2 linked regions of the Homo sapiens genome follow. The protein of the gene in region 1 binds, or shares a complex with, the protein of each later gene. Each region holds a gene or a part of one and is shown on either strand. Other genes may lie near its edges. The genes, in order: GOLGA4 and ARL1. A codon is read from its position in the direction of its gene.

Evidence for each region.
Region 2: the proteins of GOLGA4 (region 1) and ARL1 are in contact, whole or in part, in a crystal structure (PDB 1UPT), measured with the Homo sapiens proteins. Residues at the interface, in NP_002069.2 of Homo sapiens: Thr2173, Glu2174, Glu2176, Tyr2177, Lys2180, Val2181, Glu2184, Glu2190, Thr2193, Lys2196, Val2197, Thr2200, Val2201; in NP_001168.1 of Homo sapiens: Ile49, Gly50, Phe51, Gln64, Trp66, Ser73, Ile74, Pro76, Tyr77, Cys80, Tyr81, Ser83, Glu115 (codon at 4,132).

The regions. Positions count from the first base shown.
Region 1 is NC_000003.12:37,246,059-37,253,350, forward strand, and holds part of GOLGA4 (golgin subfamily A member 4), read left to right. Parts: intron 1-3,639; exon of another isoform or gene 3,640-3,684; intron 3,685-5,336; coding exon 5,337-5,426; intron 5,427-7,292. UniProt on the Homo sapiens protein: Involved in vesicular trafficking at the Golgi apparatus level. May play a role in delivery of transport vesicles containing GPI-linked proteins from the trans-Golgi network through its interaction with MACF1. Involved in endosome-to-Golgi trafficking.
Region 2 is NC_000012.12:101,392,440-101,397,888, forward strand, and holds the end of ARL1 (ADP-ribosylation factor-like protein 1), read right to left. Parts: intron 4,139-5,449; coding exon 3,960-4,138; intron 3,232-3,959; coding exon 3,201-3,231; 3' UTR 677-3,200; downstream 1-676. UniProt on the Homo sapiens protein: GTP-binding protein that recruits several effectors, such as golgins, arfaptins and Arf-GEFs to the trans-Golgi network, and modulates their functions at the Golgi complex.

The sequences.
Region 1 (7,292 bases):
TCCCATTTCTGGCCTGGCACCGTGGCTCATGCCTGTAATCCCAGCACTTTGGGAGGCCAAGGCGGGCGGATCACCTGAGGTCTACTAAAAATACAAAAATTAGTGGGGCGTGGTGGCGCACACCTGTAATCCTGGCTACTCCAGAGGCTGAGGCAGGAGAATTGCTTGACCCTGGGAGGCAGAGGTTGCAATGAACTGAGATCGTGCCACTGCACTCCAGCCTGGGAGACAGAGCGAGACTCCGTCTCAAAAAAAAAAAAAAAAATATGTTTTAACAACAAATACCTATTTTGGATTTTTAAACTCCTTAAAGAACTAAGTCAATAAAAGAAACATCAAGAAGTAATACAGACATTGTAATTTCTTGGGATATATGTAGTACATGAATACAAATATTTTAAAACATTTTTAGCCTTTTCAAGTACTTCTAAAACTTAAAAATTATAGAAGTATAGATACAAAAGGATGAATACATGACTCCACTTAATTGAGGTACCTAGAGTAGTCAAATTCTTAGAGACAAAATAGAATGGTTGTTGCCAAAGGCTGGAGAGAGGAGAGAATGGGGAGTTACTGTGTAGTGGGTACAGAGTTTTAGTTTGGAAAGATGAAAACGTACTGGTGATGGATGGTGGTGATTCCACAACAGTGTGAATGTAGTTCATGCCACTGAATTGTACAGCTACAAATGTTTAAAATGGTAAATTTTATGTTATGTATATTTTTAAAAAATCAACATATACGCCCCTCCTTATGCCTGCAGAATCATCCCTTATTTTTTTCCCTCAGCTCAGAGATGGCAGCTGACCTCACTCTTTTAGAGTGAGACCCCAAAATAATAGTTTATGTGATATAAATTTAAAAAATAAAAACAAAAAAACCAGCAAACAGTTCCACAGATAACAGGGAAAAGAGTCCTTTCTGAAGGGACATAGCCTTATTGTAAATCCAAGTTTACTAAATAGTTTCAGTCTTGAAATTGGGGAAAGCATGAGTCCCAGAGAAAACATTTAGATCAGAAGGTAGTTTATTAAGAACATGATGAAAGGCTTTAATAAGTTTGGTACCTAAAATATAAAGGTTTATTTGAAGAATTAACCCCAAGTTACTTTGACTGCTCTTTTAGAACTGGGATGTCAAATTGATTTGGCAGTGACTTACAACAGTGCTGTGATGAGGATTCAATGGCTGTGTCTCTGCTGTGACTAATCCATAGGTGTTGTAGGGAGAGTGAAATGAACCAGATGTTAGTTATGAACAGTGAATGCCTAGGTCCTCTGCTGGATGTTGCATTTGCTTTGAAGGGTCTATGTAGTCCCTACACAATGGAGTTGAGAGACAAGTACTTTCAGTGTAATAGTGATATATACAGGGTGTTGTAGTTGTGCAAAATAAGGCATTTCTGGAGAAGATCAGGGTGACATCTGAGTAGAGCCTTGATGGATAATGAAAAGTCATGGTATAGGGACAAGGGATTCAAGGCTTATTCCTAAGGATGACTGGATTAGTTTTCTAATATTGCATAACAAGTTACCACAACCTTAGTGCCTAATAACCCAGTTATTATTTTATAGTTCTGTAGGTCAGAAGTCTGGCATGGCATGACTGGGTTCTCTGCTCAGGGTCTTGCAAGGCTAAAATCAATATGTTGTCCAAGCTGCTTTCTCATCTGGAGCTCAGGATCTTTTTGTATGCCCATGTGGTTGTGGTAGAATTCAGTCCTTTCTGGTTATAGGACTGGGGCCTTCATTTCTTGCTGACCACTTTCGGCTTAGAGGCTACCAGCAGCTCCTTGCCACGTGCCCCTGTAGGCATTTTGCTTTCTTTCAGGACAGCAGAAGTACGTCCCTCTGCCCTCTAGACCCATATTTGAAGGGCTTATGTAATTAGTTTAGACCCATCCAGGTAATCTTTTGATGAACTCATGGTCAACTGATTAGTAACCTAGTAACCTTAAATATGCCTTTAAAATCCCTTTGCCCTGTAATATAACAATTATGAGAGTGATAGCTCATTATATTCACAGGGCAGGGGTCATTTGGGGTCATCTTACAGTTTTGCTTATCACAATGACTAAAATGGTTTTTCTTAAGTTTTTGTAGAGTCAGGGTCTTACTGTGTTACTCAGGCAGTCTTGAACTCCTGGCCTCAAGTGATCGTCTTGCCTTGGCCTCTCAAAGTGTTGGGATTACAGGCATGAGCCACTGTGCACAGCTAAAATGGTTTTTCTTACACTGAAATTGAGTATAACTGTGGTCAGTTAATAATTAGGCAGTGGGCAATAAAATATTAATTGTGGGTCTGGATGTAGCTGTCAGGTTTTTTGGTTAACAGCTTAGAAAGCTGACTCAGATTTCTTATGGCTATTGCAATTAATCAGCTCAAGTTTGGTTTGAAGGAACCTAAATCCCTTTATATCTTGAAGTGAGGATAGCCCATTAAGGAACCAGGCACCTGGGACAAATGCTGAAGTACAGTTAGTTCTTTATGCACTGTTATATACTTTATACTCACATCCATTTTCTCATATAATTCTTACTCTTGTAACTCCAGAGGAAGATCCAGAGGAAGATCAACAAGTCATCAGGCCACGTTTTGCCAGATAGTACTACTTTTCTAGGGAGAGTATGTTTTAGAATCTGTTAAACTTTGTAAACCCCGTTATTTGATTTTTTTGTCAGTTTCTCCAGAGCTGATGAGGCTCTCAGTTACTGATTAGACCATATGAGGCCAAGGTGTAAGACGTAATGCCAATTTTTCAGATTTGCAGTGAGGTATACTTTTTAAGCAGTTGGAAGGTCACTGTCTAAGGTAGCCCTTTCCTGGCATCTGGATATTTGGAAAGCTGAATTAATAACCCAGAGATTTCTTAGACATGATAGAATCACAACAGAGAGAGTTGATTAGTCAAGAGGTATTTCCTGTGGTCTAGTAGTACTTTTCTAACTTTTTACCACCCAGTGACCATTTTATTAAAGGAGTTCTTAGATATAATCATTTATAAATACATAGATACAAAAGGCTGCCCCCATAGTGGCAGCCTTTGAGGCACCTACAGCCTTTGAAGCTGGCACTGGCATGGTTTGCAAATTATGGCTCTAGGTGTGGGAAGGGTTTATTGAATTTATCTCAACTTTAATGAAAGCTATTTCTGATGTTCTTTGAACATTTGTAATTTGAACGTGGTGTTCAAGGTAGGCTCAAACTTATTCCAAGACTGAGACTAATACTACACAGTGACTGTGCTTTCCCTTGCCATTTTCTAAGTACAATGTTGACTTTTAGTCACATATTTTCTAGACATTTAAACCATTGCTAAGGCTTCAACTTTATTTCACATTGATTGATTTTCTTGTTTATATGCTTTTTTTTTTGAGACGGAGTCTTGCTCTGTCACCCAGGCTGGAGTGTAGTGGTGCAATCTTGGCTCACTGCAACCTCTGCAGTTGAAGCAATTCTCCTGCCTCAGCCTCCTGAGTACCTGGGATTACAGGCGCACAACACTACTCTTGTTCATGTTTTTAAGTCCTTATTCTTCCTGTTTTGTCTTTGGTGGGAGAGGATATGTCATCCCTTAAGGTGACTTCTGCACATAGCTAATTTCATCTGTTGTATTGATTTTTCTGGTTCATCTTTTAGAAGGTGTTGGAGTTCTTGGTTGTAAGCAACAAAAAGTCAATCTAGGTAAGCAGAAAAATAATTTATTGAAGACTCTTTACCCTACAGAATTTCCCTGAGGTCCCAAAAGTCTGAGCTGATTGCTACGTCCAGTTATACTGGGGAGACTACTCTGTGTTGCAGCTGCTTCAGCTTGGCACCAGCATTGCATCTGTCACTTCACAGCTTATATTTGTGTGGATGCATGAAGTTCTGTCTCCATTGTCATCAGATGATGAACTTTATTTGTATGTCTGTTTTTTCACATCACTCACTTATGACTCGAAGTCTCATGTGTTTCATTGATGGAGCTCAGGTTACCCTGTCTCAGATAAAAAGAAGATTGGGTTAGTAAGTTTTCTGAGTTCTAACTTACGGACTTATAAGAGCTGTTTATAGAAAAAAGGTTATTAAACTTTTGTCATATTTGTAGATGCTTTTCCTCACCTCCCAATTAAACTGCTGCTTTGATTTGTTTTTCACATAAAAATCTCTTTCCCATTCAGAGATTGTAGAAATAGACTCTTGAATTTTTTGTATTTCAATAAAAAAAATTAAATCTTTAATATAGCTTAAGTATGAAGGATCTGATTTGTGTGTCTTGCCCCATATGGATGGCCAGTTGTCCCAACATTTATTGAATGTCTATCCTGATGCAAAATGTTACTTTTATCATAAGCTAAATATGTATATGTCTGTCTGGATGTATATATGTGTATATAGAGTATGTGTATATTTGTATACTATTCCTCACGACCTCTCAGTTCCACCCTAACCACAGCAGTTTGTGCACGGATACCACAGACCAGAGTTCCATTTGTTTATTCATTCATTCATTTATTTGACAAATATTTATTAACTGCCTTTTGTAAAGTGCAGACTACAAAAAGAGGTAAGATATCATGACTCATTCATTTCTCAAAATAGATCTGAGTTCAGATCTATTTTGCTGTGGGTGTAGGGGGATTTCAAAATTTTGGTTTTATACTTTTAGGGTTGTTTTTAGCTCACCTTAGAGTAGACCCCAGACCTCTAGTTTAAATTTTGAGCCCTTTCTCCTGAGTTTTTTTGCGCTGAGGGTTATAGGAGTCAGGCTGTCAATTACAGAGCTAAATGGAATAGCATCTCAGTATTTAGCAGTGGTATTCAAGGTAGGCTCAAAGCAAGGCCATTAATTAGGTGGGCAAGTGCTGTTTATCTGTGCATTTCATACTATTGAATGTTAGAGCTAGAAGGTAGAAGGGATCTTAAAGATTGAATTGCCAGCCTTTTTTTTTTAAATGAACTTCTAATTTTGGAATAATTTTGGTTTATAGAAAAGTTCTAAAGATAGTGCAGAGAGTTTTTATATACCCCTCACCTGGCTTCAGTTTTCTCTAATATTATCATCTTACACTAGTATCGCAACTTTATTTTATATATGGAGACACATAGTCCTCAAAAAGTTCATGTAGCTAAGATCATAGTTCTAGTTGGTGGCAGAGTTAGGCCAGGGACCTAGTAGGTAGCCTGGGTTTTCTAGTTGATTATATTTGTTATCCTTTTCTGCTTTTCGTGTTTTTGCTCTTTTCCTTTCTTTCACTGAATTCTTTGGGCATGGACTGAGAGAAGGACTACCTAGTTCATAGTTCACTAGTCAATATAGTCTTGCTAATTTGTGCAATAATTTTTAAATCTAGGCGTCCTCCAATTCTTCAACACCAACAAGAATGAGGAGCAGGACATCTTCATTTACAGAGCAACTTGATGAAGGTACACCCAATAGAGAGGTAAGTTTGGAATTCCTTTTCTAGTATACCTCTCAAAAGAAACTAATCTAAAATGTATGCTGTTGATAACAAAATGGGAAACTTTTGACAGGTCAGCTATTTAATTCCTAGGTAGAGTTTTTATTAGTAACACAATTGGTCTTTTTTTTTTTTTTTTCACAAATAGCAGTTATGATTTATGTCTGTCTGTCTGTCTGTATGTATGTATGTATGTTTTTGAGACAGGGTCTGGTTCTGTCACCCAGGCTAGAGTGTGGTGGCACGATCACTGCACATTGCAGCCTTGACCTTCTGGATTCAAGTGATCCTCTAACTTCAGCCTCCTGAGTAGCTGGGACTATAGGCGCACGCCACCTGCCTGGCTAACGTTTAAATTTTTCGTAGACGGGGTCCCACTATGTTGCTCAGGCTGGTCTTGAACTCCTGGGCTCAAGTGATTCTCCCAATTATGCTTTATAAAGTATGGTTGTTGAGAACCTTAATTTGAGAGGATAATATGTTCTGGATTTAATAGTTGAAGTTTTCAGAATAATTTGATAAATTTGTTCAACATAGCATCATTTTTTCAAGCTGGTGAGTGGAAACTGAGAAGTAACTTATTTAACTTATTCCATGTAACCAGCAGCTGGCATTAAAACTCATTATTTCCCACTTTTTTTCTGTGAAGTGTAACACACATACAAAAAGAAGGTAAAACATAAATGCACGGGTCAGCAAATTATCATGAAGTGAATCCTCCCAGGTCAAGCAAAGGAACACTGTTAGCACTGTCGTGCTCCCTTTCCCCCTGAAGGATTACCACCATCCTGAATTTTTGGTATTTGCTTGCTTCCTTTTTTTTTTTTTTTTTAATAGTTTTACCTCTTAAATATGCTTTCTAAATGTAAACATTGTAGTTAAACATTTGGGTTGTCTACAGGTTTTGGCTACTATGAATTATGTTGCCATCAACATTATTGTACTTTTTTTTGGTGTACATGTACCTGCATTTCTGTTGGTATGTACTTTGGAGTAGAATCACTGCTCCATTTTAACACATAAGAAGATAATGCTGATGGTTTTCCAGAGTGGTTGTAGAAATTTAAATTCTCACCAGGAGCTTATGAAAGTTGCTTTTGCCCTATATTTTTGAGAGTCTTTATTTTTCTACTCTGTGTAAATATGCTGGAAAACAGTCTTTTTCATTTCAGCTGTTCTGGTGGTGGTCTTTCATTTTGGTTTTAATTTACATTCTCTGATAACTAACGAGATTGAGCATTTACATCTGTTTATTGCCCATTTGATGTCTTTTGTGAGTGCTTAAGTCCCTTGCCCATTTTCTATTGGATTATCTTTTTTTAAAACTGATTTGTAGGAGTTTTTTAAAAAATATAGAATACTAAGGAGTTTTTTGTTGAATATATATCTTGCAGCTATCTTCCACTCAGTGGCTTGCCATTCATTTTAATGATGTCCTTTGATGAACAGAAGTTCTTAGTTTTAGGCCAAGTATGGTGGCTCATGCCTGTAATCCCAGCGCTTTGGAAGGCCAAGGCAGGAGGATTGCTTGAGTCCAGGAGTTTGAGACCAGCCTGGGCAACAGAGTGAGACCCTGTTTCTGCAAAAATAAAATAAAATAAAATTAGCTAGGTATGGTGGCATGCACCTGTGTGGTCCCAGCTACTCAGGAGGCTAAGGCAGGGGCATTACTTGAGCCTCGGAGGTCGAAGCTGCAGTGAACCATGATTGCACCAGCCTAGGTGACACAGTAAGACCCTGTCTTTCAAAAAAAAAAAAAAGCCTGGTTCCCATCCATTTCCCATCCCTGACAGTACCTTCTATCTTAGAAGTTTAACAAAATGAGAAACCGCATAGGGTACAGGGAAA
Region 2 (5,449 bases), on another chromosome or scaffold:
TTACAGATGAAGAAACTGAGACTCAGAGTAAATAACTTGCCTAAGGGTGATACAGGATGTAGGTGCTACAATCAAGATTCAAAGTCCATGCTTTGAGCTGAGCGTGGTGGCTCACACCTGTAATCCCAGCACTTTGGGAGGCCAAGGCAGGTGGATCACTTGAGGTCAGGAGTTCGAGACCAGCCTGGCCAACATGATGAAACCCTGTCTCTACTAAAAATACAAAAATTAGCCGGGCGTGGTGGCACGGCACCTGTAGTCCCAGCTACTCAGGAGGCTGAGCCAGGAGAATCGCTTGCGCCTGGGAGGCAGAGGTTACAGTGAGCCGAGATCGTGCCAATGCACTCCAGCCTGGGTGACAGTGAGACTCCATCTCAAAAAAAAAAAAAAAAAAAAAAAACAAAAGTCCATGCTTTATAATTTGTAATTACGGGCTTAGAATATGACAGTATGTGGCACAGAAATCAAATGTTCATTCACTTCAGCATCTGTGCTTTGATGTAGTGTGTATCTCAAACGGGAATTCTCACGCTTCTAAGGGCTTTGTAATTTATCAAAAGGAGGCCATCTTAGAAGACTGATTTTAATTAATTCTAAGTGACTTAAGTGCATGTATTGCTTTCATAAAATTTTTAAAAATAAAATACTAAGGCAAAGATCAGAAAGGACAAATATATCTGGCATATTGAAGACGTCTTTGTTTTTAATCAATACATATTTATTGAGTGCCTACTGTGTGCCAGGTGCACCACACTAGATGCAACGGATACTAACAGTAAATAAGATACGGTCCCTGCCCTCAGAGCTTACATTTCAACAGTTTAAAGTGCATCTCAGGTATTTCAGATAACAGAAGTAATTCTACCACTCTCAAATTTTTTTTTTTAATGCAAGACACAACACAATCATAGGCCAGAGTTATAAAATACAATGTTAGAAAGAAACGTTTGGTATCATTCGTCCAGATCCCATTTTACAGAAAAGAAACTACAGGAGTGGCCATTTGCACCTATGTTCTGATTTCAAGTTTGGTGTTTTACCCATTGCCAGGCCTCTCATAAAACAATATTCAGATTTGCCATGTATATATCAATATCCAAACGCTGGTAGTATACCTGTGCAGTTGTCTCCTGCTAGACAAGGACCATATAATTTATAGCTTATTTAAGTGTCCACTTTCTTTATCCCATCCTATTCTTTGTGATAAACCAGAGGGATCAGGCTTAACCAAGTGCTGAACTTTGGGGCAACTTCATGCCCTAGGATTCAAGATGGCCAGCGGCTACATGCCGGGTCTGCCTGCCAGGACCTTACTTCCCATTTTTTGCAGTTTTCCTGGACTGCCGGGAGGCAGCTGTACAAGCTTTATAAGCCTCAGGCTGTAAGTGAACTTGCTTTCTGCATTTTCCAGCCATGTGCCATTGACCAGGAGTGAACTCAAGTATAAATTGCAAAGGGCTACTTGTCAAGATGACAAATATCTATCCTACTGTTTCAACTATGAACATATTCTGAAATGCCATATGCCAGGCGCCATACCAGATACTAGGGACATAAATATGAAAAAGTCTTTGCCCCTCAGGAGTAATATTGGTTGTACTGGAACATTTGTAGCTGAAGGAAAATCTCCAAAAAAGATTTCAAAGAGACTAAAGTAGGAATGGGTGCTGGAGAATGAGCAAGAAGGGTGAGAGTCCCACGGGTGAAGGGAGAAAGCAGCAGAGAATGAATATAAGCCCGGAGAATGAACATAAATGTGAGGGGAAGAGGCCAGAGGCCAACACTGGAAGGACAGTGAGGGCCAAGAAAGGAACTACTAATGTTTCTGAGACCTGCAGGGAACCATGGTATTAAGCTCTCATTACCAGCACCTAATTTTTTAGAGGCTGGTTTTCCAACTTAAGTGAAAGAAATTCACCCTGTTTTTAGCAATTATGACGCACTATATTTACTTCTGTCACATTAGCTGATTCTGTGGTGGACTGGGTAATTTGAAAAGCTCCTTTGAACATGAATTGTTTTTAAACTTACAGTCTAGCAATAAGCCTAATTTTTAAAACAGAATGCTTAATTTCTCCCTGTACAATCAGTAAGATTTTGATTTTTAACAAGTTTACATGTCCAATTACATGTAGATAAAAGGAATGAAAACCAGTAAAGACACCTTTTATAATCTGAAAATAGATTTTTAAACCTTCCTTTAATGTGAAATTTTCTCTTTAATGTGTTATGAATTCTATCAAATATAACCATTTAGGATTATTTATAGTATGTCACTGATCACTTCTACTAGTATAGACAAATAAATTTATAAACATTATTTTGAATGTAACTAATTAGCATAATTTTATTTAAGAGTTAGACTGTGTTGTCAATACTGACATTTTTGGGAATATATAGTATAGTTTATGAGTCAAGCTTCTGAACCAAAAGTTTTACTTTGAGCCCTATTCCTACCTTACAAGCTAGCAGGTGACCTTGGGCAAGCCAACCTATTAGAACCCTGGGTTCACGTCCATACAGTGAAGACATCATAACCTGTCCTACCTACTTCACAAGCTTCCTCTACCGATCAACTAGATCAATATATGTAAGATTTTTTTTGACAACTGTAAAGTACTATAAAATGACACTTACAGATAAGTCAGTGAAGTTAACCATCAAAACAATATTCATGCCTATAACCAAAAGCTTTTAAACAAAACAGCTTAATAAAAAGTGGTCAGGTAAGCAAATAAAGATTATATTACACAAACTATGTTCCTCACCTACTCTCATACTGAGTCTAATCTTTGGAAAGATAATTCATTTTAAGGGGAAAAAAATCTGTTAAGATATTTTTTAGTATTTATACAAACAAGCTGCAACTACTATTCAAAAATAGGTTTTTTTCATCCAATAGGAGTATACTCTTTAATAGAACTGTATTTGAATAAGAATTCCATACAAATAGAATATATACCTTAACACAAGAAAGCAAGAAAAGAATATTTTACATTACATAGAACATTCAGGTGATTCGATCAAATTATCCCTCCAACTAAATACTTATTTTCCCTATTTACTACAAATATTGCAGTCAGTCAGTATATGCCAATAATCATATAGTTTTAACATCTAGTAGTGTGAAGTACACTTGACTGTTTCCAAAGGGAGAGAGGTGATGTAGTCTTCATTTCAGGGGAGAAGAATGGACTGAATTACTGTCTGCTTTTTAATGTTTCAACTAACCTGTAAAGAGAAAATGAACTGTTTTATAAAATTAATTTTCAGGTATAAAGCATGATCATCTATAATAAACTTTGTATTGGAGGTGGATTCCAAAGTACTTAAAATGATGACAGCTAACACAGATGAGGTTATGCACTAGATATCCATAAGGTTCCTCTAAGCTTTGAATTTGTCTATGATTTGAATGAAAAATTCAAAAAAGACCAAATACCTATTTTCCAGGCTACTACTACTTCTGGGCTACATATGGATGACTCAGAGGTGAAACTAGTCTCAATCCTCAAGGAGGTGATTATCTAATGAGTAGATGAACAAATCAAACTTACAAGACAGCAAAACAAGTACTATGTCACTAATCTGTGACAAGGGCATCTAACTTTAAGTGAGTGATTAGGCAGTAGGAATAGAGATACATTAGGAAAAGCTCTTCAGAAGAGAGTCTTAAGCTAATTCCTGAAGGATAAGGAATTGGAGGGTGAGGTGAGGCAGGGAAAAGGCTAAAAATTGGCAAAGAATTTGCTTATCTAAGTAACTGTAATCAGGTAGGTGTGGTTGAGAAGACAGATGCACCTGAAGACCAGTGAGAGAAAACGCTTGAGGAACTTATGAAATAAGCTGCTAAGTAAATCAAAGTTTCATCCTCAACACGGGAGAAAAATTACACGTGGACGTGCATAGCTGCAAGCACACACAAATGCACAGATGGCTTCTGGAAGCATGATACTTGCCATTCCATTGCCTCATCAAGGCCGGTGCCTTTGGTTGCTGACGTTTTGAATATCTGCCATTTTCGGTCCTTCAAGGCAGGTAACCCAAGTGAATTTGCCATCTCTGAGGAAGTCATGGCCTGTTCCATGTCCTGTTTATTTGCAAACACCACTAAAATGGCTTTTCTCAGCTCTTCTTCCTAAATGAAATTGAAAATATTTAATTTCTTTTAACTAATGTGCTCTCTCGAGTTTAGAAAATGTCCAAAAATACATTTTAAACGTGTATTTTATAATTAATATATTACACATTATGAAATTATATAGAAATTATATAGAGAAGTATAAAGAAAAGAAGCTTCACTCATAATCCTACCTCCCAAATATGATCACTGTTAACATTTTAGGTGTTTTCTACTAGTACTTTGTTTTGCAGATACTTCAGAGTTTATTTAGTAAATACATTTACACATTTAAGATCACATTTATATATAGTTCCATACCCTGCCTAAAAATTAAAATCATGTTTCTCCAAACTACAACAACTTTTTCAAAATAAAAAAATGGCTAAATATGCTCTACACTATGGATGCATGCACCATAAACTGTGTTAACTATTTTCTAGTATCTGACTCTTATTAGAGTCTTTCCACTAGACTATTAGATAAACCCAAGTGACAGGGTCTTTATACAAAAATTTCTGTTTAAATCTGTTTCCTTAACACAATATTCTAAAAATGGAGTCAAAGTATGAACAGTTTTTTTCAGGCTTTGATAAACTGAATACATGCATGAACAGCTTTCCAGAAAGGTTACCCTACCAACAGTGTATAAAAGTCTCCATCTTCAATGCAGCCTTTGTAGAGTTGGGAATTATTTACTTTTCCAAACATAGCATCTCATTATATATTACTAGGGTATTCGAAATGCACATGGGCTGAGGCAGGAGGATCGCTTAAGTCCAGGAGTTGGAGACCAGCCTGAGCAACACAGGGGTCTCTACAAAAATTTTTTTAAAAAACAAACAAAAAAGGAAGCAGAGAGAGGAGCTCAAGGTTATAACAAGCTTTGGTTGTGCCACTGCACTCCAGCCTAGGGGACAGAGGGAGACCCTGTCTCTTTTTTTTTTTTCTTTTTTTAAGACAGTGTCTCGCTCTGTTGCTCAGGCTGAAGTTGCAGTCGTGCAATCTTGGCTCACTGCAGCCTCTGCATCCTGGGTTCAAGTGATTCTCCTGCCTCAGCCTCCTGAGTAGCTGGGACTACAGGTGCCCGCTGCCACGCCCAGCTAATTTTTGTATTTTTAGTAGAGATGAGGTTTCACCATGTTGGTCACTCAGACTGGTCTCGAACTCCTGACCTCATGATCCACCCGCCTCGGCCTCCCAAAGTGCTGGGATTACAGGCATAAGCCACCGCGCCCTGCTGACCCTGTCTCTTTAAAAACAAATGCAAATGTTATTAGCAATGTTTTTCCCCTACGAATTGCCTTTTGCTCATTTTGCAAAAGATCT